Regions from separate parts of the Homo sapiens genome. Here region 1 is linked to region 2. Evidence: fine-mapped expression QTL. A gene starts in region 2. The other region holds a variant in brackets. All regions are shown on one strand. Distances are between the middles of the regions.

The links. PIP is the estimated chance that this variant, and not a neighbour inherited with it, causes the effect.
Region 1: its variant is fine-mapped to the expression of SSH2 in whole blood (TOPMed, PIP above 0.99).

What each region holds. Positions count from the first base shown.
Region 1 is chr17:29,602,761-29,605,665 of GRCh38, forward strand. The region is part of intron 1 of ANKRD13B (ankyrin repeat domain 13B); the gene reads left to right. Among named protein-coding and RNA genes, the nearest start is that of ANKRD13B, 11 kb to the left of the region's middle. The variant G/C (reference allele first, on the strand shown) is at 1,140.
Region 2 is chr17:29,928,990-29,931,894 of GRCh38, forward strand. It overlaps SSH2 (slingshot protein phosphatase 2), which reads right to left and starts at 1,239. Exons shown (of 16, transcript NM_001282129.2): 1 at 949-1,239. The coding sequence starts at 1,011. It also overlaps a transcript of EFCAB5 not described here. RefSeq lists silencers at 439-488, 999-1,278, 1,429-1,518, 2,252-2,421.

The sequences.
Region 1 (2,905 bases), 330 kb before region 2:
GACATGTCTTAGGAGGGGCACCATTCTTCAACCCACCATAGTAGTTTTTATCAAGTTTGGAAAAATTTTGGACGTTCTTTCTTTCTTTTATTATTTATTTACTTATTTTGAAATGGAGTCTCCCTCTGTCGCCCAAGCTGGAGTGCAGTGACACGATCTCGGCTCATTGCAACCTCCCCTTCCCGGGTTCAAGCGATTCTCCTGCCTCAGCCCCCAAGTAGCTGGGACTACAGGTGCCCACCACCACGCCTGGCTAATTTTTGTATTTTTAGTAAAAATGGGGTTTCACCATATTGGCCAGGCTGGTCTCAAACTCCTGATGTTGTGATCCACCCGCCTTGGCCTCCCAAAGTACTGGGATTACAGGCGTGAGCCACCGCACCCGGCCTATTTCTCTAAATTTGTCTTATTTGTCCTACTTCTTTATTCTGTCCTTTGGGATTCCAATAGATATATGTTACAATGCTTGATAATGTCTTACAGATTATGAGGCTCCATAGAGACAGGGTCTTGCTCTGTTGCCCAGGCTGGAGTGCAGTGGCGTGATCATAGCTCACTGCAGCCTCGAACTCCTGGGCTCAAGGGATCCTCCTGCCTCAGCTTCAGAGGAGCTGGGACTACAGCTGCTTGCCACCATGCCCAGCTAATGTAAAAGTTGTTTTGTTTTGTTTTGTTTTGTTTGTAGAGACAGAGTCTTGCTGTATTGCCTGGGCTGGTCTTAAACTCCTGAACTCAAGCCAACCTCCCGCCTTGGCCTCCAAAAGTGCTGGGACTATAGAAGCCCAGCCAACTTTATTTTTCAGTACTGTTTTTCTCCTCTGTGCTTCAGTTTGGAAAGTTCTATTGCTGTCTTCAAATTCACTGATTTTTAAATTGTGCAGTGTCTAATCTGCTGTTATTTCCATTCAGTGAATTTTTCATTTCAGTTACTGTACTTACTATCTTTAGATGGTCCACTGGGTTCTTTTTTATACCTCTCATTCCTCTCCTCATGAACATCTTTTTCATGTTTTTCTTTAAACTCTTGAGTATATTGAGCCATCTATCATCTTTATCATTTCTGAGTTTTGTTTCTATGAAATTATTTTTCTCCTGATTATAGGTTATATTTTCTTTCTTTTTTTTTTTTTTTTGAGATG[G/C]AGTCTCTCTCTCTGTTGCCCAGGCTGGAGTGCAGGGGCGCCATCTCGGCTCACTGCAAGCTCGATCTCCTGACCTCGTGATCCACCCGCCTCAGCCTCCCAAAATGCTGGGATTACAGGCTCACGTGAGCCACCGCACCCTGCCTATAAGTTTTATTTTCCTACTTTTTGGCATATCTAGTAATTTTTAACTGAATTTTGGACATTGTAAATATGATGTTAAGCATCTGGATTTGTTATTGTTCTTTAAAGAGTGTTGGGCTTTGTTCAGGCAGACTAGGTAAATTACTTGCAAATCAGTTTGACCTTTTTGAGGCTTTTTTTTTTGAGACAGAGTCTTGCTCTGTCACCCAGGCTTGAGTGCAGTGGGGCAATCTCAGCTCATTGCAGCCTCAACCTCCTGGGCTTAAGGGATCCTCCTGCCTCAGTCACTGAGTAGCTGAGGCTACAGGCACATGCTACCATACCTGGCTAATTTTTTGTATTTTTTGTAGACATGGGGTTTTGGTATGTTGCCCAGGCTGGTCTTGAACTCCTAGGCTCAAGTGATCTGCCTGCCTCAGCCTCCCAAAGTGCTGGGATTAGAGGTGTGAGCCACCGTGCCTGGCCTTTGATGCTAATTTTTCTTTTTCTTTTTCTTTTCTTTTCTTTTTTTTTTTTGAGATGGAGTCTTGCTCTGTCACCCAGGCCAGAGTGTAGTGGTGCAGTCTTGGCTCACTGCAACCTCCGCCTCCTGGGTTCAAGTGATTCTTGTGCCTCAGCCTCCTGAGTAGCTGGGATTACAGGCACCCATCACCAAGCCCGGCTAATTTTTTGTATTTTTAGTAGAGATGTGGTTTCGCCATTTTGGCCAGGCTGGTCTTGAACTCCTGACCTCAGGTGATCTGCCCGCCTCCGCCTCCCAAAGTGCTGGGATTACAGGCATGAGCCACTGCACCCGGCCTGAGGCTAATTTTTAATCTGTTAGGGTGGGTCTAGGTGAGCCTTTTCTCTAGGGATAGTTTAGCTCTACTGCTAAGGCATAACCCTTCTGAGGTCTGATTAAATATGCATCTCCACTCTAGGAGGCTGGAGCTTGATTATCTCCTTGCTTTTGGTGAGCTCTGAGAATTTACCATTTTATTGCTCCTTTTTGTGTGGTCTTACTGAGTTTCACTATACACATGTGAAGTTTAGTATTCAGGAAGACTTGAAGAGACCCCTATGCAGATTTCTGGAGTTTTTTGAGTAGTTTACTCTTTTCCAGAACTGTGCTCTGCTGCAACCTTTAATACCTTGGCTTCCCTGAATCCTGTCTCCATCTTCTCAACTCAGGAAGAGCACCATGCTCTGCTCGGGCTTCCCCTCCTTGAATTACAGTCTGGAATGTTCCTCCAGGCAGAAATCCAGGGATGTTACAGAGCTCACCTTGTTCATTTTCCTTACTTCAGGGATCACAGTTCTGGACTTCTAAAAACAGCTATTTCTCTTTACATATATTTTCTATATAGAGAAATATATATATATACACACACAAACACACACACACACACACATACACACACACATATATATATACACACACACGCATATGTATATATATATTTGAGACAGCGTCTCACTCTGTTGCCCAGCCTGGAGTGCAGAGGTGTGATGATACCTCACTGCAGCCTCAACCTCCCAGGCTTAAGCGATCCTCCCACCTCAGCCTCTGAGTAGCTGGGACTACAGGCACAGGCCATCATACCCGGCTAATTCTTTTGTATTTTTTGTAGAGATGGGGTTTT
Region 2 (2,905 bases):
TTTTTTAAAGCCCATTTGCCCCACTGGTGCAATATATTGTTTTTAAAAATAAATATTTTCAAAAATGGAGCCTAAGAGAATGGAGTGTAAACGAATGGGGGTGGGGCGAGGAGAGAAGGCAAAGACGGGCCCAGCGGGGAAAGGCTGGTTACTGGGTATTTTCCTTCTGAGAGCATGCTTTATTGGCATAGGCATCTGAGGTAACGAGCCATACAAACACGACCTTAGAACAAGAATGATCACGAGCAATGAGTGTAAGGCATAAATATCTGTAAGACGGAAATAATTTGACACTGATCACTAAGCAGCACCAGATGCTTCGGGACCTCATAAAGGAAAGGTAAGAGGTCCAGGAAACAGAGATCATTGCTACCCTCTGGGGTGGGGGGCAGGCGGGAGAAACCAAGGAATAACTACGGTTGGGCAGTTCAAAGCCTGAACAGTACAGAGCAAAAGAAAGCCAGCAAGTGACTAGGGGAAGGCACACACCCTGGCGAGTACGAAGAAGGGTGTGCAGTGTGCAAATACTGAACAGGTCTATGAAATGGTGTGGGTAAGAGATGTGGGTGTGGGTAAGGGGCAACGCAGGAGGCTCACGGTCCCCTCCCTGCAGCAGAGCAACAGAGGGTAAAAGAAGGGGGAGGGTGAAAAGCAAGAATGACTCATTACCAAAAGGAAGTGCTCAAGCCATAGGGAGGCATGCCACAGGGGATTTCAGGGCGAGGATTGTGAGGAGCTAGGTGCTCAGGGTGATGGGGGCAAAAATCAACGTCTTGTAGTTCCTGCTGCTAGTCTTTAACATGGGGGTGTGGGGGGGTTCGCGGCAGCCGAGTGCCAAGGCCTGGGAAGCGGCGCGGCGCGTGCGCAGTGGCGTTCGGCGGGACCCGCTGAGGCAAAGCGGAGCCGCAGTGACAGAAGCAAGCGGAGCGGCCGCCAGGAAGGACTCACCGAGGCGCAGGGGCTGGAGGTGGTGCTGGGGGTAGGTGACCGCTGGACCGTGACCAAAGCCATCTAGGCGCTGCTGGGTTGTTCCGGGCAGGGCATTCTTGTCCTGAGTGTGGGGGACGGGAGGGTGACGGAGCCGGGATGGGGAAAGGGGTGCGGGGTGGGGGTGAAGGGAACGGGGAGGAGGAGGAGGCCGCGGGAACGGCCGCAGACTCCGCACCCACCACCAGACTGTCGCCGACTGACGCTCCGAACGGGCGGCGGGCGGGCGGTTCCGCAGCTGCGGGGCACAATGAGCGCTCCCAGTGCGCAGGCGCCACCTGTCAGCTACCGCCTCTCCCCTCGGCGCGCGCCGCCGCCTGGTCGTAACCCTTGAGTTGCCGGAAGCTGGCCGAGTGCGTGCGCCTCGGGCCGCCGCACCCTCCTGGGTTTCCTCCTTCGTGCTGGAATCGCGCGGTTTGCCAGCACTGGGTGCTGTGGAGTGGGGTGGGGGAAGGGGCCGAAGGGAGCCAGCCCGGTGAGGGGTCCCAGGGCGGGGGGCCGCTGGAGTCTTCACTCCTGAGAGACAACCATTTTATGAGGTGGGGCGGCGCACAGCTTAACCAACCTTAAAAAAAAGCAGCTGAGATGAAAATCCTGAAGCAAACACGTTTTCTATTGGGAAAGGGCTCCGCGGAGTTTCAAACCCTCTCACTGGGCGCAGACAGAACTGGGCTAGACCAGTTTACTCCCTTCACCCCGGCTCTCGGGGGCTTTTTCTTAACTTTTCCCCCCCTTCCGTCTATGTTTTATGATGAGACTTCTGGAAAGAAAACCATTTTCCGTTTGATACCCTGGAAAGGTTTGTGGTACCCTCATGCTTCCTCTATTGCCTGTCTAAAGACTTATTCATTATTCCTGAGGAGAAGAGAAGCTGAGCGCGCCTGGGAGTCCGAGGAAGCCGGTTGTGAGGGTCCAGCCTGCTATTGACCTCTCACTTGCCTCCTGCTGTGAAGACAGTCTTTTAATTAAACAGGATTTGCTCGTTAAGCTTTCTTCTCCTTCGTCTCTAAATGTCATTCTTTCATAGACCTATGTAAAAATGTAGATTAAAAGATATTTTAAGGGAATGGTTTTCTCAGGGGTAAATTGTCTGCAGAACATAAGCAAAGAATGTAATGGAAAATCAAGATTAAAAAGGAAAAAAATTGCACAATGCAAATATCACTGATTATTTACACAAAGAAAGAGAGTTGACAAGGCTATTTCTCAGCTTGAGTGGATGAGCTGGTAAATACCACCGTACATATCAAAGCTGTAGAAAACACACACACTTGGGAGTTTGCAGTTATTAAAACCCACCCCCTCCTGTTTGTCACTCAAACACTCTTGGATCTCATTGCTTCTTTTAAACTGACAGGGCTGTCATGAGCTCTTTCTGGCTGCTGTACGGTTAAACGCCACAAGAGTCCTCTGTGCTGAGCCTTTGTTCTCTCCCTGGGGCCCTGTGGTTGAAATAATTAGCAGGGAGGTTCCATCAAGAATCAGACACTGAGGGTCCCTGTACTGTACAGTCCTATGTAGAGTGTAGTGCAGAGAAGCCAGCTGGTAGGCTTTTGCCCCCTGGTGGTGATCAGGAGTGCCTGTGAGACAAAATTAAACAAAGATGTATGGTTCACAGATTAAACAATCTGACTGTGTTTTCCCCAGAGCTCCGTAGTAAACAGGAAAAGAGAAGGCAAGTTTCAGAAGTAAGAACTTTGAACCAATGCATGGGAGACCAAAGAGGAAACTAGATACATAGCCAAAAAATACACATAGCTAGAAGCTGAATGAACTCAAATAAATGAAATATATGTGCTTTATGAACCAAAGTATCATTCTAGAAAAAGTAATATTCAAATCTGTAGGTCTTAGTACTTGTATGTTGATTCTCTGACTCAGGGAGGGCAACAATGATGTTCTACTTTTTCATGGTAAC